2 separate regions of the Homo sapiens genome follow, and region 2 is linked to region 1. Evidence: fine-mapped expression QTL. A gene starts in region 1. The other region holds a variant in brackets. All regions are shown on one strand. Distances are between the middles of the regions.

Region 1 (11,973 bases):
AATGGCAAGTCTCTCCAGATTTGCTTTACAATGGGCATTCCGTGGATCTGTGAACTTTGATAGGAAAATAATTATATCTTTATTTCCCTTAAACTGTAACTGGAATTTAATATCTTCTTTAATTATAAATGTATGCAATAAATCTAGGAGTATTAGTAGTACCTGTGACTTTGTCACCAATACAAATCACAAATATTTTCGTATCACATTGCAGCTGTTGCAAGTAATTCTAAATATTGTTTATGCTCACTGCTACTTTAAAATTACAGAACAGGCTGGGAGCCATGGCTCATGCCTGTAATCCCAGTACTTTGGGAGGCTGAAGTGGGCAGATCACCTGAGCCCAGGAGTTTGAGACTAGCCTGGGCAACATGGCAAAACCTCTTCTCTACCAAAAAAAAAAAAATTACAAAAATTAGCCGGGCATGGTGGCACATGCCTGTAGTCCCAGCTACTTGGGAGGCTGAAGCGGGAGGATCGCTTAAGCCTGGAAGATTGAGGCTGCAGTGAGCAGTGATTGCGCCACTGCACTCCAGCCTGGGTGACAGAGCGAGACCCTGTCTCAAAAATAAAATAACAGAAGATATTAGACATGCTGCATTAATAAAGCACATATACTACTGTTTCACAAATATTTTGATAACTACTTTGATATAATTGGTTTCCTTTGTAATCCTATGTGGCTTGTTCTTATGTACTTGAAAACATTATTCTGCCCCACCTGGCTGTTCTGTGATCTCATGACCTTTGAGTGGGAACTCAGACTCAGGAGGGCTGCTGCCAGCACTGGCCCAAATGACTTCGGTGGTTTTTACAGCACGCTGGAGAGAATCTGAGAGGATTCCCTGGCAGGAATTTGAGGATTATCTGGGTGATGCATCAGTGATTACAATTTTGTTTTTACCAGTTTTGCTAAGCAGCAGCAATAGCAGAGGTGATTAAGAAAAATGAAAGAAAAAAATGCAAAAAGAGAACAGGCAGAGACGGTGGTAGCTGCTTTCTTGATGTTGATACTGAGGGCCAAGCTTTCCACCACCCCCTTGTAGTTGCAGAAAGCCTCAGATGTAATGGTAGTGTTACGGGATCTTTGGACGGGTGTGGGAGGTATTGATTTTCTTCCTGGGAGCGCCTTTGCCTGAGTTCTTGTCCTGTGTCCAGGAATAATGAGGTACTCGAAGAACTTACTGAGTGTTAAGCAGCTCAGAGAAGACCCGCAGTGGGTAGCTCCTCTGAGCAAGTCATCCCATGGAGTGTTCAGCTCTCAGCAGACAGGAGGCCTGGAGAGGGTAGCTCCCCCTCTGCCCACTGGTTATCCTGCCACCTGCTGCTCTCAGCAGAAAGAAGACCCAACCCTGGAGAGGGGAGCTGCTCTCAGCAAAAAGAAGACCTCACCCTGTAGAGGGGGGCTGCTCTCAGCAGAGAGAAGACCCAACCCTGGAGAGGGGGACTGCTCTAGGGGATCCTGGCGGGGGGTGCTCCTGGAGAAGGAGGCTGTTCTGGGGGATCCTCTCCTCAGGTCATTTGGAAGTCTCTACAGGAGGAGGGGGGCCTCCTCTCCGCAGGTCCTTTGAAAGGCTCTGCAGGTCTCTGCAGCTCTGGCAGAGAGGGTAGCTCCTTTCTACAGCTACTCTTCCCGCTGTCTCTCCATCCTCTCCTGCAGTTTGGCTGAGCCCAGGGCTTTTATGGACCTCAGAAGGGAGGAAGTGTGTGCTGACTGGCCCATGGGCGGCCATGGGTGAGCCTGGAGGAGGCACCACAAGCTCCCACTCAGGTCTGTGGGACTGGCAGCCTGGTCCCCAGTCTTCAGTCCCTCCCTGACCTGAAGGTGGGGCCTTACTGGAGACCTACCCCCTTCTGCCCAGGAATCGATCTGCCTCCTACTGTCATTCATGGCCCCTGGGGCTTGGCCCCAAGCCCTGCTCCATGATCAGAGCAGGGGCGGCAGCAGAGAGAGGCCAGGCAGCAGGAACAGACACCCCCTAGCGACGGGGTGCGGTGGGGTCCTTTCTGGGGTCCACGAGGGTGCAGGCTGCAGAGACCCTCTGGGTCCTGCACCTAGGAGGGCAGATCTTGCCTGCTCCCAGCCCCCTCCAAGAGCACCGGGAGGCTCGGATCCACAGCCGCTGTTTGGGCAGTTGTAGCCCCGCCCAGGAGGGTGGCGACCCTGCCTGCTCCGTAAAGCAGGAGGCCTGGATCTGCAACTGCTGTTTGGGCGGCTGCAGCAGCACCTGGGGAGCTCTCCCCAACTCAGAAGGGGGAGGCATCCACCAGCATGCAGCCCCAGCTGTGCCTCCCTGCCGCAGCCCGGTGATGGCAGCAGCTACTGCAACAATAGTGTAAACAGTGGCCGGGCGCGGTGGCTCACGCCTGTAATCCCAGCACTTCGGGAGGCCAAGGCAGGTGGATCACGAGGTCAGGAGATCGAGACCATCCTGGCTAACACAGTGAAACCCCGTCTCTACTAAAAAAAACACAAAAGAAAATTAGCCGGGCGTGGTCGCGGGGGCCTGCAGTCCCAGCTACTCAGGAGGCTGAGGCAGGAGAATGGCGTGAACCCAGGAGGCGGAGCTTGCAGTGTGCCGGGATCGCGTCACTGCACTCCAGCCTGGGCGACAGAGCGAGACTCTGTCTCAAAAAAAAAAAAAAAAAAAGGGTAAACATTTTGAACTGTATGCATTATTATATCAAGGAGTAGCATATCTTGCATGAATGCTCTCTTTTGTGTCTAGGTATTCTAAACACTCTTAATGTGAAAATGAAGTGCATGTAGCAAAAACCTTTTATTATAAGAAACTTTACAACACTTGTGAAAAAAATTAAATTTGGTTTGTGCACAGTGTAACCTTTCTCCAGATATTGTCCAAAATTACACACGCACAAACCGTTCACCCTAATTAGGCGTTGGCCTCAACCTAAACATCTGGGACTGTTATCTATTAAACTGCTGCCAGAATCTTACATCCAGTTACCTCCACTTTCTAGAACATATTCTCTAATAATGCCATAGAAACCAATTTCTACTCCATACTGATGTTTTTTTGCAACAGCAATTAAAATTTTTTCTTCCAAAAAACCCCATTGTTCTGGGACAGGATTCATTGGTTTCATCAGATGCCTGAGACGTCCACAGTGTAAAAAAGGCCAATTATTCTAGCTTTATAGTCCCAATGCTAAGGTCATGCCAATGATCCCATATGTCTGGCCCTCTGGGGGAATGTGGTGAAAGTAGGTACTTAATACATCCTTTTTGAATGAATGGTTTGGAGTTCTTGTCATAATTATAGAATTATAAAGCTGGAAAGTCTTTAGAAAGTCTTTATTACAATGATTTTCAAAGTGTTTGGCCATGACTCATAGCAAGAAATGGATTTTCACTTGTGACCCAGTAACCGCATGGGTGAAACAGTTTTTATAAAACATGATGTAACTTTACTATGTATGATGCACTCTTATATCTTCTATTCTACTTCTTTCTTAATGTATTCCATTTCTCTTTTTTGAGATGATTAATTGAATTTTTATCCAAAACAACTGGCTTCAATTGAAAATTATTAGTAGCAGATTTGGGAGCAAGTAAACAGAAATGGAAAGCCTTAGTATTTGGCTTAATTATTCTAAAAGCACACTGATCACATTTATGCTTTTTTAATTTTAAATTTTAATTAAATTTTAAGTTAAAAGGCATAAATGTGATCAGTGTGCTTTTAGAATAATTTGAAGGTGGGGTATTTAAAGTTAATGTGTAGAAAAGAAAAAAAACCTTACATAACCCCAGATCACACAAATTAAAATTCACTTAGTCATACAGTTGTGAGCACTTTTGACAGCCAAAATTTCACCCTTCTTAAAGTAGGAGTCTTTCAAAAATACTTCTTCATATTCAAAAGCTAAAAGTTAGAGTGAAGATGGCCCAATTATCTCGGTGTGGGAGAGGTTACATAATAATCTATTTCCAAAACCCACAAAAACCCGTAAATGTCACCAACAAAAACAAAGCAGCAGATTGGCCAAAACTAAGGCAACTGGTTATACAGGAAGGCAGCAGGTCACTCATTTAACTGCTAAAAGCCATTGCTTTGTAGTACTAATGTTAATTCCTTTCCACACTTCAGGAACCCACATCCCAGCCATTGCAGGGTCAGTTTCTGTGTATTTAGCTCTGTGGAATGTGCCCGAACACCAGTCAGCACTTAAGTCAATCTAAGTTTGAAAATCAGCTCACTGGCTTCATGATATAATTTGTACATTCTTCCTTAGCTTCAGGGGCACATGCCTGACCCTGGTCCAATAGATCCAGAATGGTTACAAGGATATCTTGACTTATAAGAGATGCCACATAAGAATTTTGACAATTCAGTCTTGAAGTCTGCTCACTTTGACCCAAACTTTTTAAGCCAGTGACATGCAGAGGGTCCACTGGGGCTGGATGAAATTTCTATGGACAGAGATGTCACAGAGCTGGGAAGGAGAGAAATAGCTCTCCAGTCAATGTGACTGAGAAAAATTAGTCATATCACTCTGAAACATGTGAACTTGAGGGTTAAGGATGCTGGCATGCAGGGAAGTCATGTGTGCAGCAGAAGAGCTGCAGGATGTCTTCTCTTTTGTGTTAATGTGAGATTACTGAGGACAAGAGAATAGGTCCTGGGAGATGTGGGTGTATTTGCCAATTTCTCACCACACATAGCCTCCTCAAAAAGCCCCCAAAGATGGCCAGGTGCAGTGGCTCATGCCTGTAATCCCAGCAACTTGGGAGGCAGAGGTGGGTGGAGCACCTGAGGTCAGGAGTTTGAGACCAGCCTGGCCAACATGGTGAAACCCCGTCTCTACTAAAAAAAAAAATACAAAAAAAAATTAGCCGGGTGTGGTGGTGGGTGCCTGTAGTCCCAGCTACTGGGGAGGCTGAGGCAGGAGAATCACTTGAACCCAGGAGGCAGAAGTTGTAGTGAGCCGAGATTGCGCCACTGCACTCCAGCCTGGGTGACACAGCAAGACTCAGTCTCAAAAGAAAAAAAAGCCCCCAAAGATGAACTTCACCTAGTTGTAAGTGGTCTAATAGTCCTCCGTCTCTCTCTCTATATATATATTTGAACTTCAAAACTAGTTTTTTCGAAAAATATTTTTTAGAGCCAGGGTCTCACTCTGTCACCCAGGCTACAGTGCAGTGGCCCAATCATAGCTCACTGCAGCCTCAAACTCCTGGGCTCAAGTGATCCTCACTTCTGCCTCCTGAGCAGCTGGGTCTACACGTGCACACCACTGCGTCTGTAACTTTAAAATTTTTTGTAGAGATTGGGTCTCGCCATGTTGCCCATACTGGTCTTGAAATCACGGCCAGAAGCAATCCTCCCCCCTTGGCCTCCCAAAGTGCTGGGATTACAGGAGTGAGCCACCACATCTGAGCCACAGGGCGGCCTCCATAATGGGGCATGAGCCTCTTCCCATCTTTTTTTGTTGTTGTTATTCGAGACAGTCTCACTCTGTTGCCCAGGCTGGAGTGCAGTGGTGTGATCTGTGCTCACTGCAACTTCTGCCTCCAGGGTTCAAGCGATTCTCCTGCCTCAGCCTCCCAAGTAGCTGGGATTACGGGCACATGCCACCACACCCGGCTAATTTTGTTTTTGTTTCTGTTTTTTTTTTTTTTACTTGAGACGGGGTTTCACCATATTGGCCAGGTTGATTTCAAAACTCCTAACCTCAAGTGATCCACCCACTCCGACTCCCAAAATGCTGGGATTACAGGCATGAGCCACCACACCCAGCCCCATCTCTTTTTTTTTTTTTGAGACGGGGTCTAGTTCTGTTCCCCAGGCTGGAGTGCAGTGGCGTCATCACGGCTCAATGTAGCCTCAACCTCCAGGGCTTAAGCGATCCTCCTGCCTCAGCCTCCCAAGTAACTGGAACTACAGGCATGTGCTAATTGTTTTTATTTTTAGTAGACACGAGGTCTCTCGCTATGTTGCCCAGGCTGGTCTGGAAACCCAGAGCTCAAGCAAGCCTCTCACCTCGGCTCCCAAAGTCCTGGGATTACAGACGTGAGCTACTCTGCCTGGCCCTCAAAAAAAAAAAAAAAAAAAGTCAGTTGACAACCTATTAAACTGATATCTGTCACGTTAATGGGTCATGACTAGCAGTTTGAAAGACAAAGCTCGATTTCACTGAATTTATTTCAGCAACAGAAGTTATTAGCTTTAGTCCAATCTCAAAAGTACAAAATGAAATTGCAACACAAACCTCTAAACCTGCAGTTGCCGGAAGCTAAACGTCTGCGCTTCCGGAAGCAAATTTCCAACTACCACTCCTCTGGAAGCAGGACCTGGCTTCCTCCCTCCTCTCTCCGCCCACCCTCGTCGGCGTCTGCCCCGCGCCCGCCATAGCGACGGCAACGGGCGCTGCGGAGTGCTCCGAGCCGTGAGGGCGGGGCCGGCGCGATGCCCCGCCCCTTCGATAGCTCATCTTTGCGCGTCGCAGTCGCGCGGAGCCCGGCTTCCGACGTGCAGCCTGGCAGTGCAGTGGTGAGTTGGAGCGCAGGGCCGTTGGGGATTGGGGTCATTAGGGCCGTTGACAGTCCAGGCCAGAGGGCGAGTGAGCGAGGTTGGGCCCGAGGCTGCCTGTAAGCAGGTCCGTTCAGGGATGCTCCAGGCCCTGGGGCCTGAGGGTGGCTTCCATGGCTCCATTTGCCCTGGCTGTTCCTCGGTGTACGGGGCCTGAGGGGAGTGGGGGAGGCCCGTGGGTGGCCTCCTTTTGCGTCCTGAGAATGTTCTGGGCAGTATCGAGATTAGGGCTGGTTTCTCTGCGGAGGAGATCATTTATCCGTAGCTGGGAGGGCTGTATTAACCGAAGTTTTCCAGTAGTGGGCCACGCTGTCTTAGGTAGCGTGCTGGACAGATACAGACATCACTGGACGGGTACAGACAGAGGCTGGGTTCGCTTTACGCCAAGTACCGTGCAATACTGTGGGCTGTTGACTTGCCTGAGTAGTTTCATAGAGGCATCTGTAGTGTTCCTTGGAAACACTGAGTCAGTGATGAATTCTGCCTAGGAAATTTAGGGAAAAGTTTCCCAAAGAGAGAAGATGGCAAGAGAGGGCTAAGGTCTAAAGTCTCTTAGCTCTGACCTTCATAAGACCCTGAAGTAAGAGGTAGTGTATCTTGGTAGCCTATACTATAGCTTGTATCCACCTTTTAGTGTCCCTTGGGGAAGCTTCCTTAACCGCTTCTAAGCCTCCCTTTTCTTACTAGAAAAGTGGAACTGATAATAAAAAAATAGTAGTTCCCCCCTTATCTGCGGGGTGTACGTTCCAGTGGATGTCTGAAATCTTGGATAGTGAAGGACCCTGACTGACTTACCGTGGTTTGACTTACAATTTTTCAACTTTACATAGGTTTATTGGGAAGTAACCCCATTGTAAGTTGAGGAGCATCTATACTGTGTTTTTTCTCATACAGATTACACATACATACCTGTGATTACTTAGTTTAATTCGTAAATTAGGCACAATAAGAGAATAACAACAATAATAATAAAATAGAATTATAACAGTGTAATAAAATGTATGTGAATGTGGTCTCTCTCAAAATATCTTACTGCACTCTACTCACCTATTTTTGGACTACGGTTGACCTCTGGAACTGTGGAAATCAAAACCTCAGCTAAAGAACTACTGTACCTAGTAAGCGGGGTTATGAGGTTTCAGTGAGCTAAATCTTTGTGTATTACTTAAAATAGGACCGGATTCATTGTACATCCTCAAATGTGCACTCATTGATAGAATCACACCCTTGTCTTTTGGAGCCCGGGTTTTTGGAAGCTGGCTTACCGCAAGCCTTCCTCCTTTTTTTGTTTCTATCCATTGCCAAATGTGAGGCCCAGAATGACAGGGAAGAGGACAAGCCTGTGCTTCAGCAGGCAGAAGGCTGTGCTGAAGCAGAGGTTGAATACCATTCCCATTAGCCAAACTGGCTTGAGCACTTTCCTGTCTTTCCTACCCTGGGCAGAAAGAACCCTGTTCATGGGTCACAAATGAATAAAACACTACCAACCTGTCTGTAATCCCAGCACTTTGGAAGGCCAAGACAAGAGGATCGTTTGAGGCCAGGAGTTTGATACCAGCCTGGGCAACATAATGAGAACTTGTCTTTACAAAACCAAAACAAAACACTACCAATTTGAGATCTTCATAGGCAAGGATTAGTTATAAATTGTTTGTTTGTTTGATTTCCTGTTATTGGAAAACCTTCGGCAGCTTTTTAGGCTGGCAGATTTAAAGAAAGTAACCTGAACCTGGATGCCTTAACTGTGTGGTCCCTTAAACTGCCAATGGGTAGAATTGCGAGGGCCGTGAACTTGGCTGAGAGGAAAAATTGCATCTTTATGTTTCCTAACCTCCAACTGAAATTTAGCATTTTCTTCCACTGTGAATGTAGGCAACAAATCACATTATTAGCAGTGTGACTTTGTTATGAATATAAATTATAGATATTTTCATATCATGATATTGTGTAAGCTCATTGCAACTTCGAAATTATGGTAGTTATTAAATTTGCTTCTAGATCACATATATAATGTGTCAGTAAAGAAGCACATATGTTTTTGTATTTTGATAAAATTTTAGCATACAGTCTATCCTCATTATTTGTGGATTCTGTATTTATGAATTCACCTACTTACTAAAATTTGTCTGTAGCCCTCAAATTAATACTTACAATGCTTTTGTGGTCTTTGGAAGACATGACATTTTTTCACGTGAAAAATTTTAGTTGCCTGATGCACATGTTCTCAACTGAAGTCAAACAAGGTGACACTGCCTTCTTGTCAACTCTCATATTGTAAGCAAATGTCATTTTTGCAGTCTTTGGTGCTACATTTTTCTCATCTTTGTGCTTTTTGTCGGTGATTCCACTGTTTGAGATAGCCCCCAAGCATAGTGCTGAGGTGCTTCTAAATGCAAGAAGATTGTGATTTGTCTTATGGAGAAAATATGTGTGTTAGATAAGCTTTGTTTAGGCATGAGTTCAGTATTAATGAATTACTAATGTATATTCAGTAAGTGCCTTTAAACATAAACACACATAAAACATGATTATGTATTGATTGGTTGACAAGAATGTGCCCAGAGGCTTTCAGGAACCTGTTTCCCCAAGGAACAGTGGTTCTGTGTTGGATAATTTAGTGTCTGTAGCGACTTCATAGAACATAATTGTTGTGAATAATGAGAACCTACTGTAATTGGTTTCATTTCTAAACCTGTGTATTTTCTGTAAAGACATCCTGAGCCTGAGTCTGGTGGCTCATACCTGTAATCCCAGCACTTTGGGAGGCCAAGACAGGAGGATTGCTTGAGCCCAGGAGTTCAAGACCAGCCTAGGCAACATAGGGAGACCCCATCTCTACAAAAAATTAAAATATCCAGACATGTTGGCACGCACCTGTAGTCCCAGCCACTCGGGCTGAGGTGGGAGCAAGACTTGGCCTGGGAGGTTGAAGCTGCATTGACCATGATTGTGCCACTGCACTCCAGTCTGGGTGATGGAGCAAGACCCTATCTCGAAAAAAAAAAGTCCGCCAAAGGGGGTCTTTGGCACACACAAAGAAATAAGAACCATTAGCCCTTAATGTAGCCTGAGAAATTAGATCTATCCTTTTTTTTTTATTTTTTATTTTTATTTTTTAAGATGGAGTCTCGCTCTGTCACCCAGGCTGGAGTTCAGTGGCACAATTTCAGCTCACTGCAACCTCCGCTGCCTAGGTTCAAGTGATTCTCCTGCCTCAGCCTCCTGAGTAGCTGGGATTACAGGTGTGCGCCACTACACCCAGCTAATTTTTGTATTTTTATTAGAGACGTGGTTTCACCATGTCAGCCAGGATGTTCTCAATCTCTTGACACGTGTCTCCCTCCAGCTTCTGCCCTTATTTACCTGCCTGTTGGCTCTTAAAGGCATTTTTGGTTGAGACTTTTGCATGTAAAATAAGAACTTTGCCATCTTTGGATTCCCCCATGTTTGTTTGTTTGTTTTTAATAAATAATATTTAATATTAAAAGGAGCTGTGGTTTTTTTCTCTCTAAAGAGCAGGAAAGGACAGAGACTGGTCGCTCTCTGCAGTCACACTTGAGGTGAAGAAACCATGGGATAGAATTAGCTGTTAGTTGAGTCCCTAGGTTCAGAGGAAGAAAGAAGACCATACCACCTGGTAGGGAGTGCGAAGGAGGTTCCAGGGACTGATCCATAGAAGGGTGTCAGAACAACTTCATAATAAAGAGTTGCCTTATTTTCTTGGTCAAGGGGAACTTCCTGTGTGCCTTCTATCCTGATGACACCCCCTCACTGAAATCCTGGTGTTGTTTCCACAGAGCTGTCTGGCCTTTTGTCCTTGATCCTTGGTTAAGGAAATGACCAACCAGGTAAGACCTGTGTTGAAGGGAAAAACATCAATTGGTCTCTTTGCCAAGTTCAAGTCCAGTAGGTTTTCTGGATGTGTAGTCAAGAAACTAGCATCTCATTCTTGCCTGGCTCCTAAAGAGCTGGGTGACCCTGGGTACCTAGTCACCACAGTGTTAGGTGGGACTAGTGAAATGCAAATACTGAGAGGAGGATTGGTTCATCCAAGTCTTTACCACAATTTAGTGAGTAATAGAAGAAGCTTAAAAGATGTTGTACAAAAAAAAAAAAAAAAAGATCAGAATAGGAGATAGAACAGGAGAAACATATCTTTGTAATAAGATTAGGGACAAAGTTAATAGACGGTTAGGCAGGCTGTGTGTTCTTATTGCAGCTGCAAAATTTAAGCTACAAACTGGACTTTGAGCTTCCTTGGTGATCAGAACAGAAAAAGAAAACATAATTTATTGGTCTCTTGTTGAGTGAGTTTGGGTAGTAGGAAGGAGGGGAGAATGTCAGTTTCTTTAAGAATTTTTTTCTGATATGACTGTACAAATCTTGCATGAATGGGAATCAAGGAGCTTGCGGGATGGCCAGGTTGACAGCAGAGGAAGTAACTAACACTGTGGTGACTCTGTCTACTCGGGGAGGAGTGCTTTCTGGAGGCAATGTGAGACATCTGAAATCTGACCATGGGTTTAATGTGGCTTCTGTTCTTTTTTAGTACGGTATTCTCTTCAAACAAGAGCAAGGTAAGTAGCCTGCCTGTTTAAGCAATTCATCTGTGAAAAAAACTGTGTTGTCCCTGGTTTAAGACTTTTGTCATGCTGACCAGACATGCAGTTTTCAAGTATACTCACTTTGCAGAAGAATTGGCAGCTGAAAACAAATACTCTTAAAAAACAGACAACAACAACAACAACAACAAAAACCTGAACAACCAGCTAAAAAAAAAAAGCAGTCATCATGATAGGTTGGGGAATTCTAGGCTGAGGAAAATTTTTCCACCTGAGGAAGACATGATGGAGCTTCCCAGCTGCTGAGGTGGAAGAAGGAAATGCTTTGAGGCTCAAAACTCTGTTAATGCCGGCTCATCTGGGGAGGTGAACGTGAGCCTTTTTCTGAACTCAGAACTTGCTTTGGCCCTTAATGAAAGTGAAGCCTATAATAGTGAAATGAGTTTCTCTTGAGGCCACCGAGTGCATGGGGAGGGCTGGGAGCTGTGCAGCAGTGGCAGTGGCAGGGATGGGAGAGCAGGTGGCAGGTCAGAGTGGGCTGGGATTGTAACTGACCAGTGGTACAGAGCTTTGTACCCAAAAAGGAGCCATGTTTGTGCATGGGCTACTCACCCATCTCATTTCTTCACTATAGCCTCGATGAGTTTGAGAAGGCCTAAGGAATTTGTGGAATGCCTAATAAAAGCTCTTGCTCTCTAAGTAGGTGACATGGAGGTAGTTTGACGTTTAAGCCAAAAGCATCATTCAGGTTAGCTAGTGTAAGTAACTAGTAGGCTAATTGGGCATGCCAGTCAACTACCTTATATGTAGCTATTGTCATCCAGGTGGCAAGTTAGCAGGCTTGAGTTAGGTGAGGT
Region 2 (11,973 bases), 21 kb after region 1:
ATGTGCTGTCAGCCTAGCAACTCACGAGGCATATCCCCACATAGGCTGGAAAACATGGTGTTAGCCCCACAGCCTTTAAATGCCGTCTTTGGAAATTGCTGCAGCTGGTGTCTGGGGCCCTCTCCTGGGGGCTGCTGCGCCATGGCAGGCTCACCAAGGACCTTCCTCTTCAGGAGATTCCATTGCTTAAACACAATCATCGCTTGTCATTTTTGGGACTGTCCAAAGAAGAGATGTGATTTTTTTTTTTTTAATATAGTAGAAGCTGGAAATTCATACAAGTTTTTTGGCTTTAGTGTTATTGATAACTTTTCAGTCTTTAAAAGGAAACTGTTCTCACAAGCAACTTTATCTTTGCCAAGGTGAATATGTGAAATAGCAAAGGTGTTCTAGTGCAATACTGCTGAGTCTTTCATGTGTGCTCGTATCCCCTGGGAACCTGGTGAAAATGCAGATGCTGCTTCACTAGGTCTGGCAGAGGGCCTGGGATTCTGCATTTCTAACAGGCTTCCAGGTGAGGCCAAGGCTGCTGGTCCTAACCACACTGTAAGGTCTTGGGGAACTGAGCATAAAAAATAAAATGTCCATGGCAATATAATATTGGCTTTTAATATATTTTAAATATTTTTAGATGGTCCTATAGATTTCTCCTCTTTGAAATGGAACTTAAAGTTAACTAACATTGTTCATGCTTATTTTTCAACTTAAATTGTCCCAACAAAATTGAGGGGGTTCTATCTTGATATTCCACTTCTGGATTTAAGCATCTTACTCAGGGAGTAAGTCCTGGCTAGCTGTGTTTCCTTGTATGTATGGATCATTGCGGTGCTGTGTCAGAGGCTGGAGTGAAAGGCCATCATGCAGCCCAATCCCAACACTAAAATCAGAGTAGGGTGACAGGCTTACCACCCAGAATCACCTCCTAATAATCAGGAAGTTATTTATGATTAGAGAAACTCCAACCACATCAATTCTGTCTGGGAAGGAGGTGTGAATCAGTTAATTTAACACATAGCAAATAAAAATCTATGGTCCACAATATCATGTTGTCTAGCTCCTGGGGACAGGCAGGCTCCATAGGCCACTAATAACAGAGTGAGAATTACTGACTGTGGGGGGCGGACACAAGGGGTCAGCTGAGGAGCGCAGTTTGTGACTTTCCCTATAGGCAGTGACCTCGGGGTAGTTGTGGGGCTCTTTCTTCCTGGAAGCATAAATGTTGGTCTCTTATGGCTTCCGTCTTCCTGGCATTAGGTTACACTTCAGGATTCTGACTCTTTGAAAGGGTTGTAGATAGTCTTGATTAGTACTGTATTTAAAAATGATTTTTTTTTTTTTTTTTGGAGTATGGGAAGGGGCAGGAATTCTAATTAAATAGCAATAATGGAAGGTGCTCGGTTAAAGCCTCCATTCTCACTGATTTAGAAAGTACAAGAACATCCTCATCTCAGTTTTGGTAGATTCAGAATAACGAGAAAATAAGGATGTTCATTTCATAAATATTATAAAGAATAAAGGCATTTGTAGAACTATCTTTTTTTAAATTTACAGGTCTGGGGAGTAAAATACAATGGAAATGGTTCAAAAATTGTGTCTGTTGGAGATGACCAGGAAATTCACATCTATGATTGTCCAATTTAAACATCAAAGTCTCCAGGCTTATGCTGCAAAGAGAATGTACGGATTGATCATGACATTCCTTACCTTCTTAGGCTTGTTTAAAAGAAATATAGCATTTATTGTAGCAAAGACTTAAATTTTGTAGATACAATATGAATCTTTTCATGTTTTATTGGAAATGCTGTTCATACTTTAACATAAAGCTTTCTTAATGCAAACACTGGTGTCCTTGAACATGCTTCTTTTTTCAGTTACCCTATTACCAGTGAAACAGTGAGAGGGATTGGCATTAAGAGCAAATCTCTGCCTTAGCCATCAAGAGATCCAGGTATTTCTTTAACTTTCCAGCTTAGAAATACAGGCTGACTCTTCCAGGGAGTTGACTTATGCAGTGAGATACAGCAGCGAGCTCCCCGGAGCTGTGATAAAGAAGCTAATCTATTTTAGAATGGAGTCCTGAAGGAAAGAGTATATTTGACTGCATAGGAACATTATGTACTCCTGTCTATCTGGGCATCCTTCCACTTGATGTATTAAAGATGTCCCCTGCCAAGCCCTCCTTCCCCTTATTAATTTCAGAGAGGTCTCTAACTCGCTAGGTGGGTATCGGAAGGCAGGCTGCTATTCTTGCTGCCTTAACAATGCCTAGGCTGAAGCCTGTGCCTCATGCTGTAGAACTGTAGCCCTGCCTTAGTTATTTCAGAGTATCTGTACCTCAGAGTTTCCTCTTCATCAGCCCCCTTGAGACTCATGTTAATGAGAAAGATGTAAGTAGCTGAACACTTGGAAGCGTGTTTTTTATTGATCATTACTTCATATGCTTATGAGTCAGGTCATGTGCTTTTCCTCAAACCACTCACTGCCCTCAGAATAAAGCTCACACTCTTTATCATAGCCCCCCACTTCTCCCTCCTGCTTGCCTTGCTCACCCTCCTGTAACCACATCATCCTTGCCATTCCTCTGCCTGGAATGTTTTCCCTCCAGACCTTCGGACATCTGCTCCCCAGCTGCATCCAGGATTCTGCCCAGATGCCAGCTCCTGGTAGAGGCCTTCTTCCCATTCCCTTCTACTCATTCCCATTCCTCTTGTTCTTCATAGCAGTTACCACTTTTTGTTTGCATTCACCCCCACCCCCAAAATAAAGCTCCATGAGGGTGGAAACTTCATTCCATTATGTCAACCAATGAGAGGCAAGCTGGCAGGCACCTAACACTGTTTATGTGAGCTCTCAAAAAAAGGAAAAAGCAAAGCCACTTATCTCTCATACCAGCTCAATTTTAATTTTAAAGTGACAAATGTACAGGTGGAATAAAATTTTAAGCGACACCCTCCAAATTCCTTTTATATGACAAGAAGGAGCTGAATGTAATTTTACACCATTACCAACTAAACAGTAGTTCTTTAGCAATAATTAGGAAGTCACAGCACAAAAACGACACCCCAGAGTTGTGGTCCATTTATAAATAGATTTTCACCTAGGCTTCGTTGGAAGAAGTGATTTTATATCTATCCTCACCAATGGTCAAAGTGGGCACAGGTGGGCTGTTTCTATACTTTGAGCAAATTATGCCTCACTAGCTGGCAATGTTTTGCGGGAACCTGGTCCGTGCAGCTGGTTCACCTTACCTGCATGGTCTGATCTGCACTTTGACCCTCCTAAGGAAGATCCCTGGTCTGAGTGAAACTCTCAGGTGCCATGTAACCAAATAAGGGTAGGGTAGATCTGACAGGTGGCCTCTGCTTTAACCCAGCAGCTTACAAGTTTTTTGTGACTTGGGGAAAAGAAATAAGCAGTAATGGCTAAAGACTGAGGTAACCCTAAGTTCGAATTGTAGTCTACCTGTCATGAATAAAATAATGACTAATATCCCTCCAAACAAGCTATAATTTACAGTAGTAGTCCATACAAACTGTAATCCACAGTGGAACTCAGCGAAGTTCTTACCAAAACATCACTTGAGCAGGAAACCCTTTGTAATATGGCTGTGCAATGAGAGGAACGATCCTTTGGAAGGGAGCTCAATCTGGGAGAATGAGGTGGAAAACACTGGGGAGTTCTATGCCTTTGCAGACCCTCAAGTCACCCCGGATTACTGGTCAGAGAAGCTGGCTGTGCCATGGGCCAAACCAGCAGCATTCTCCCTTGGCTTCTGTTGCTGCACTGAGGCTGCCGGGGACACAGAAGGATTTAGTTTTCTTTACAAGTAAGCACTTTGGTGGGAAAGCATTGCAAAAGTTGTCAACAGAAAATCATTAAAACCCTGAAGAACAAGGTGTGAGGGTCACAGGCAAACAGTTATCAGCATATGATTCAAACACTGGTTTGTCCTCACCACAGAGCTTGGAAGGTTCAGAAAACTTCCAAGAGAGATGATCAGACACTCACGTTCCATCCACTGAAGGGCACAGAACAGTAGGAACTAAGTTGGCCCTGTTAAGCAGGCACATGCAGCCATGTCCGATCCACGGATGTGCTTTTATTCTTTAAGAGGATCATCTAGAATCCTCAGAAATGTTATCTTAGCAGCCCTGAGATCATGCCCTCAATAACTCTGCCAAGGGAAGAGGGGAGAAACCACAGACCTAGAGATGAGTCAGGATGCCCACTTTGTGCCTTGGGGTTTGCTAGGGGGGCTAAGCTGCTAACTGGGCTGTGCCTTATTGGTGACACTGAATTATGGCAAAGCCACTAGAAGCACAAAGTATTGGTGCAATCACTGACATCTCAAAAGTATATCCTGAAAATAGAAATGAACAGATTCCATATGCAGACTAGAGGTGATTTATACTTAAAACATTTAAATATAAATTAAGCTATAACTTAAGTTACAACCAAAAGAAAAGCCAAAAAGACACTCAGCAATTAAGAATGCTGAACACATACACAGGACATCCCAAACACAAGGCCATTAAAGCGATGTCATTTTCATTGTGCCAACTTTACATTCATCATGTGCTAGTCCGGTGGGGCCACGCTGCCCCGCACCACGTCATGCCGTCTGGCACTGCACTCCAGCCTGGGGCCCGTCTTCGTCCTCCTCGTAGGCCTCCCTGTGCTGACGCCAGTTCTGCTCATTGGGACAAAACTCCTTCAGCTCCACCTGATCCATGTCATCTGTAATCCTCACTTTCTGTCGAGGAGGGAGTAAAGCTTCCAGCTGAGGAAGCTTTTCCAGAGAAAGCCAGTGTTTTTCAGGAAAGATTACCTGTAAAGGGTGAGGTGGGAAAGAAAGGTGGCTGTTTTTTCCCCTTCCAATTAAGGCATTTAATAATATGTCCATGACAATGAAACATAGTGAACTTACTAAAAACTGTATGATCAGAATCCCTTTTTCCAGGGGTGCTTTGTAGATGGGCATTCCTTCATCGCGCACGCATCTCAGGTCCCCGTGCTTTATCACCTCACCTGCCAGAGAAAGGGTCAATTAGGAAGGAGGAAGGCAGAGGGGCCTGCAGAGGTCGTTCTCCCTCATGGGAGAGCCTGCGGCAGGCCCTAGTGCCCCGTGGCAGTGGGCAAAGGAAACGTGGCATCTGACTGGAAAGCTGGCCCCAATCCCAGGTATCCTTGTCAGGTACTGCCTGGGGAAGGGGCTCAGGCTGAGACTCTGGCCTGTGCTCTGGGCTCCAGCAGTGTGTCAAGAGGGCAGCATGGTGCAGCTGCCATCACAGGTAGGTTTAAAACAAGTGAACTAGAAGTCATGACACCCAAGTCTGCCTAAAATGGGGCCAACACCTGTCACCCTGCCTCTTTGTGGGGTGACAGGTATCCCTACCACGAGGGGGACAGGAGTGCTCCCCACAGACAGGAAGAAGCCTCAATAGAGTCCAACCAGTCCCCTGCCTGGCATAAAAACTGGCTCTTGGCCACCTGCAGGTGACACCCAGGTTCCTTGGTAGGGAGCTCACTAGGTGGCTTGGCCACTGGCAGACTCCTTCATGGTCACAATGCACTTCCATACATGCTGCTGAGCTGGAGTCACCCTCCCGGCTGGCACCCGCTGGGTCTTACAGCTACGTGACTTTGGAAGGCATCAGAGGAGTTCAGACCCCAAGAACTCTAAGGCGTTCTCCCAAGTCAGAAACTTCCCTCTAAGCATGGAAAAGGAAAGGGACAAAAGGGTTTCTGATAAAGCATGCTCTTCAGCTCAGCGATGAAAATGGACAAAGACAGAAAGAAATGTTCGGAAAAAATGGGGGAGACGGTGGAGGGGAATGGAAACACTAATTTCTTCAGCAGTCCACTTCCATACGGGACTATGTAGAAAGTGAGCTGTCTCTTCAAGAGGAAATCTTTAAAGAGGAGGTTTTAAAAATAAAGTAAGCCAATGACTATCCTTGAGATTCATTCGCAGGCAGGGCTGTGGTTCAGACATGGCCTTCAGAGCCTACTGACTGTGCAGGACAGCAACCCCTTAGCTAAACTGCTCCAGGCTGCTGGCTTTTTGTGTTCCTGTTTATTCTTTTTTTTTGAAATACAGTCATGGCCAGGCACGGTGGCTCACGCCTGTAATCCCAGCACTTTGGGAGGCCGAGGCGGGCGGATCACGAGGTCAGGAGTTCGAGACCAGGTTGATCAACATAGTGAAACCCCGTCTCTACTAAAAAAAAAAAAAAAAAAAAAAAATAGAAAAACTAGCCAGGAATGGTGGTGTGTGCCTGTAATCCCAGCTACTTGGGAGGCTGAGGCAGGAGAATGGCGTGAACCCGGGAAGCAGAGTGTACAGTGAGCCAAGATCACGCCATTGCACTCCAGCCTGGGCGACAGAGCGAGACTCCGTCTCAAAAAAAAAAGAAATACAGTCATGCACAGCATAGTGACCTTTCAGTCAACAACATTTATGAAGATGGTTGCAAAGATTACACCAAACTTTTAC[T/C]GCACCTTTCCTATGTTCAGATACTCACATACTCAGCATCGTACTACAACTGCCCACAGTATTCAGTACAGCAACCTGCTGTGCAGGTTTTAGCCCAGGAGCAACAGGCTATGCCACACAGCCTAGGGTGTAGCAGGCTATGCTATCTAGGTCTGTGTGAGTACATTCTATGGTGTTCACACCACAACGACATCGCCAAACAATGCATCTCTCAGAACATATCCCCTTCGTTAAGTTACATATGACTGGTTTTTCTGTCTCCCCATTCCTATCAGGTGTCGCTTCTTGCTGCTCTCAAGCCCTACTCCCCATGCTTCTGCTTCTAGCTTGCTGGGAGCTGGGAAACTGACCAAGCATGGAAAACTACAGGTAAGAGAAGAAGACCACGAGTTAGGCTCTCCCGGCAGGTAAATACCTGCCTGCAGGCAGGGCCATCACACCCTTGTGTGGCTCCAAAATCACTTTTTTAATTAATCCAATCCTCAGCAATGCTCATAACAGGCTAAAAGGCTCTGGGGAAGAAGGCATTTCAACAGCAGAAAAGAGGAAGAAGAGGGAGAAGAGAAAATGGAGAAACAAGAAATAAGCCAACACAAAAGAGGGGTGAAGAAAAGAGAGGGTGCAAAAGAGAACAAAGTAAAAACAAAAACAAAACAAAAAGGACAAACAAATCCCCAAAGAACTCTCCAACGGCAGGTTTCCTGGATGCTCCACCCTTCCTTATAATAAAGAAGGAAATGGATTTCTTGGGATTTGCCACTTCCTTCCCTCTGGGGCTCTTTCTCCACCACCCTCACTCCATTTGGCTCCCGGCTCCCTAGGCTGGGGTCAGCTGAGACAGCAAGGAACGCTGGCTCTTGGTGGGGCCCAGGACCTCAAATAGTCCACCCCTGGACAGGACAGGCTTTCCCAAAGAAGTTACACACAGATGCTTCCCAGCCCCGGCTCAGGAGGGCTAGGATCTGGGCTGTGACCACGTAAGGGCATCTTGGACACAATGCCAGGGTGTTGAGCTCACAACCAGTGGTCTGGAGCTTCGTGTAAACTGTGATCCTCAAACTCCTCCTTGAGGGAGGAAATGGGTGCCTTGGGAGGTCTATGGAAGCCTAAGGGAAGGTGTTTTATTTTAAATTTTCATGCAAATTTTGCATTATACTGCAGTGCTTCCCCCAATCCTGGATTAAGTATATGTATAAAAACACACACAAGTCTGGGCAACATGGCGAAACCCCGTCTCTACAAAAAGTACAAACATTAGATGGGCGTGGTGGCATGTGGCTGTCCCAGCTACTCGGGAGGCTGAGGTGGAGGTTACAGCGAGCTGAGATCACGCCACTGCACTCCAGCCTGGGCGACAGAGCAAGACCCCTGTCTCAAAAAATAAATGAACAAATTTTAAAAATAAATAAAAACAGACACAGATCAAATGACAAACCAAATGGGGTAAAATGTTAACATCAGACAAATCATATATGGATGGGCCTCGGACTATTTTTATATTTACAACTTCTTGTAAGCTTGAAATTGTTTCCAAATAAGTTTATTTTAAAACTCCACAAACCGATCAAGGCTTGGATATATAATTCTGCTTCCTACTATCCCCAGGAAAGGAGGAACCTGAAAGAATCCAAGAGAGGAAAGAGAAAAAGAGCACAAGGCTGGGAAGAGAAAAGCAGACAAGGAGGGGAAGGGGGAGAGGGACACGGAGGGAACAGAAGTCCAGGCCTCAGTCACCCCACCAGACTTGAGTCTTATCTCCAGCTGCCACTGCCCTGGGGGCAGGCTTATTGGTGGTTACCTCCCTGCCTGCCCTGAACCTACCCCTTTTGCACCAAACCTCAAATGGCCATAGAAAAAGGTAATCCCAGCCCCACGGCCAGTGAGGGGACTACAGCAACACTGCAAATGGCTGGTGCTGGGGCCCAGGCTGCTTCGGTGGCGTAGCCGCCACCACACCCATCCAGACATTCTTTGCTATGCACAGCTGACCTTAGTGCTATTCAGAAGCAGCTTCAAGTCAAGGTCCCTGGCCTGGCCTCTCTCCCTTCTCAGCCCCTTCTAGGCAGGTGCTCTGGTGCCCACACAAACCCTCAACTACAGTGAACACACCAACCCTCCTGGGAGATGAGTGCCCTGGTGTCTACAGGGGGGTTGGGGGCTGAGCTCAGGCCTCAGGAACCCTTTCGGCCTAGAGGCATCTCCCTCTGGCTCCCATGGGTGTGTGCAGACCAGCAATTCCTGTGGAAACCTCCAAGGATAAACTGATAGGCAAAGTCTTTCTTACAGGAAAATTCTATTTTAAAATGTAACTCATGTAATGAACAACAGAGGCTACAGGAACATGTGGATGAATCAGCACAAATCACCACTTGATAGAAAAACACCACCTATTAAGCTGTTTTCTTATACAAAAATAAATTTTTAAAAACTTAAGTTTAATTGCCAGAATTCATCTAAAATTCAGAGCCCCAAGATTCTTATTTGAGACTTTCCCCCCAACTGAATATTTTTTCTAGGAGAATATACAAGAACTTTATAAATTATCCAGAGTTATTAGGGACAGTTTTAAATTTAGAGAAAATCACATCATACTAATTTGTGTAACAGAATTTGACCTTAAATGTGAAATCAGGGGAACTATTCCCAACACAAAGAAATAAATACTCAAGGCGACAGATGCCCTAAACACGTGGCTTGATCATTACCCATTTTATGCAAGGGACAAAGTATCACATGCACCCCATCAATATGTAAAATATTATGTAGCAATAAAAAAATCAGGCTAACTTGCCAGAATTATTATGCCAAACATACAGAACATCAATGGAAACACACTTTGAAACATTACCTGCTTTGGATGTAATAACAAGAATTCGATTGTCCAATGTTTTTATCGTCTTCTTGAAGCCACAAAGAGCTTCAGAAAGCTGAATTTTCATTTTCATGATCAAGTCATGGCCTCGTCTCTGAAAGACACTATGATCCTTCTGATCAAGCACAATTATGACATCACCAGGCTCCAGCTCAGGCTCCTGATCTCCTTCTCCATGAAATAGTATCTTTTGCCCATCTTTCATACCTATGAAACATCATCCCTTTCTGATTAGCCATTTCTCATACAAACCATGCTTCCTTAAAGCTTTTGAAGAAGGAACAGAGTCCTTCAGGGATTCTTTATTCATCAAGTCTCCCAACCTCATGCAGGCACAAGGCAGGGAGGGGTGGCTAGGATGGCCAATGACAGAAGAGGTCCCGCTTCCCTTGGCATAATGTGGGGCCAAGCCCAGCATGCACAGGGAGTGGGGGAATGCGGCTCTACATCCCAGGTTTACACAGCACTCCCTGCCCAGGGCCTGTGATGCCACACCACCAGCATAGGGTCACCGCCCACTTCCCGGGGCACAGGGTGCATGACTTGGGACTGATAGGGACAGGTCAGCCAGCCCTGTCCTTTTCTAATAAGTCAGCTTGCACACTCAAGGCACAGGGTTTAGGCATGTTTAAACAGTAAGTCCTTTAATAACACCTGTGTCGGTTTGGCTGTTGATTCTTTTACTTTTGGTCTCATCTCTGATCTAGGATATATTTACTGGATTGGAAAGCCACAGAATCATCGGAATACTTGGAGGACAGCTAAAATGGAAAAAGGCCTTAAAATGATGGCATCAGGCAAAATGAATAGCAGGAGAAGGTGCTGTATTTGGGGGAATCTGATGCAGCACATGGGGAAATGTGGAGAAAGGGAACATGCAGCCACAAACACTTACACAAGCCCTTATGGCCAATGAGCATCAGAAGCGACCAGGAAGACACTCCGAAAGATTCTAGAGGAATGGCTTGAGAATGTCAGGAGATGGCAACTAACCCAAACCAAGGCCAGGTAAGACTTTCAGAGCGTTAGAAAACCTCATAAAGAGGCTGTCTGTGATCTCAAGGAAGTAAACCTCAGCAAGAACACTTTGGCAGGTGACATGGAATGGAAATAAGGCCAGGAAGGGTGAAGAGAAGACTGGGAAACAAGAGGAATTCATGGCACACCCAATACATGTTGTGATACAGCTCACTTCCCTGACATCTAGTCTGTGTATCTCACGATTAGCACCCAGACAGCATTTCCAGCCCGTGTGGAGCACCAGCTCTGCGCAGCCTCACCTTTTTCAACATGTACCTCGATAATCTTCTTCTCACGGATCACCTTGGCCCCGCTGCAGCTCTCGCAGCGGTCCTTGGGGTTGATGCGCTCACCCTGGCCCTTGCACTCGATGCACACGGTCTGGATCTGCTGTACCATGCCCGGCCCGATCTGCTGGATGTGGATCTGCATCCCCCGCCCCTTGCACAGCGGGCACTTCTCCACCGATCCCTTCTTCCCACCAACACCTGCAGGGTCAGGGGAGGCAGGAATGAGGGCCATGCTCTTCCCTTACCAGTGTCCCTGCTGGGCGCCATGGCAGAAGGGTAGGGAACCCTCACATTGGACAATGGGCTTAGAATTCTATTTACAATAATAAAAAACAATGCAGAAGAGTCTGGAGGAGTCCAGCCAAGCAGACAACATCCAGATGTTAACATCTGACCTCAAACGTTTGTGATTTTGGCTGCACCAATCCAAATTTATTACTTTAGCTTCATCAAATGTGTTTTCTTCCACCCCAGGTGGAACTCGCATAGGCCCACAGATGAATGAGGAGGCTGGGGCTGTGGCGATCTAGACAACACAAGCTCTGTCAATAGTGGCAGCTACCCAGCTCAGCCAATTCTCTCTGTGGGACAATGTGAGGCTGGGGTCACCAGACATGGCTTTTCTTGAAAACTCAGGTTTTTTAAAAATTACAATAATTATATATACATTTAAGTCAGGGGTCAAGAAACCATGGCCAGACTGCTTGGTTTTGTAAATAAAGCTTTACTGGAACATAGGCATGTCCATTCATTTATGTACTATGACGGCAGAGTGAACTAGCTACAAAAGACTCCATGGCCTGGAAAGCCTAAAATCTGGCTCTTTACAGAAAAAGTCTGCCAACCCCTAGATGAGGTCAAGTGTCTGATTTTTAATTTTTAAAAATAATTGTCTGTATACATATGTAACAAACCTGCACGTTGTGCACATGCACCCTAAAACTTAGAGTATAATAAAAATAAAAAATACAAAAACATAAAAAGAAATAATTGTCAACATGTCAAATAGAGGTGCAGCCCAAAGAAAACATTCATTCAGGCAAAGAAGTGTGGCCCTCAGGCCACCTGTTTGTAATCTCTGCTTGACCCTTGCATTTGAAAAAAGATAACTTATTTTCCCTGAACTATAAAACAAGCATTGTTTCTGAATCTAAGGGATCAGAACTGTGCGGTTCAGTCAAAAATTAATTTTTACCTTCACATTTCTCACAAATTACATTTTTCTGGAGGGCCAATTTCTTCGTGACTCCATTATATAGATCTTCAAGAGTTACAGATAACTGGTGTACAACATT

Direction of the effects. Positions count from the first base shown, and alleles are read on the strand shown. Sizes are in standard deviations (SD) of each study's normalised expression.
In carriers of allele T in region 2, the expression in sun-exposed skin of the gene that starts at base 6,468 in region 1 tends to be lower than with C alone (small effect, 0.14 SD a copy in GTEx).

The links.
Region 2: its variant is fine-mapped to the expression of SKIC8 in sun-exposed skin (GTEx, PIP above 0.99). The same link has a PIP of 0.9 or more in neutrophils.

Annotation. Positions count from the first base shown.
Region 1 is chr15:78,294,104-78,306,076 of GRCh38, reverse strand. It overlaps SKIC8 (SKI8 subunit of superkiller complex), which reads left to right and starts at 6,468. Exons shown (of 11, transcript NM_025234.3): 1 at 6,468-6,515; 2 at 10,352-10,402; 3 at 11,104-11,131. The coding sequence starts at 10,391. RefSeq lists enhancers at 6,071-6,160, 5,336-6,302, 6,401-6,750, 6,303-7,270.
Region 2 is chr15:78,273,100-78,285,072 of GRCh38, reverse strand. DNAJA4 (DnaJ heat shock protein family (Hsp40) member A4) reads right to left here. Exons shown (of 7, transcript NM_001130182.2): 3 at 11,874-11,973; 4 at 10,649-10,876; 5 at 9,345-9,575; 6 at 4,928-5,028; 7 at 2,882-4,828. The coding sequence ends at 4,613. It overlaps SKIC8 (SKI8 subunit of superkiller complex), which reads left to right. Exons shown (of 11, transcript NM_025234.3): 11 at 1,552-1,838. The coding sequence ends at 1,641. LOC105370910 (a long non-coding RNA gene) reads left to right here and starts at 6,273. Exons shown (of 2, transcript XR_932500.3): 1 at 6,273-6,865; 2 at 10,076-11,415. RefSeq lists an enhancer at 8,152-8,446. The variant T/C (reference allele first, on the strand shown) is at 6,497.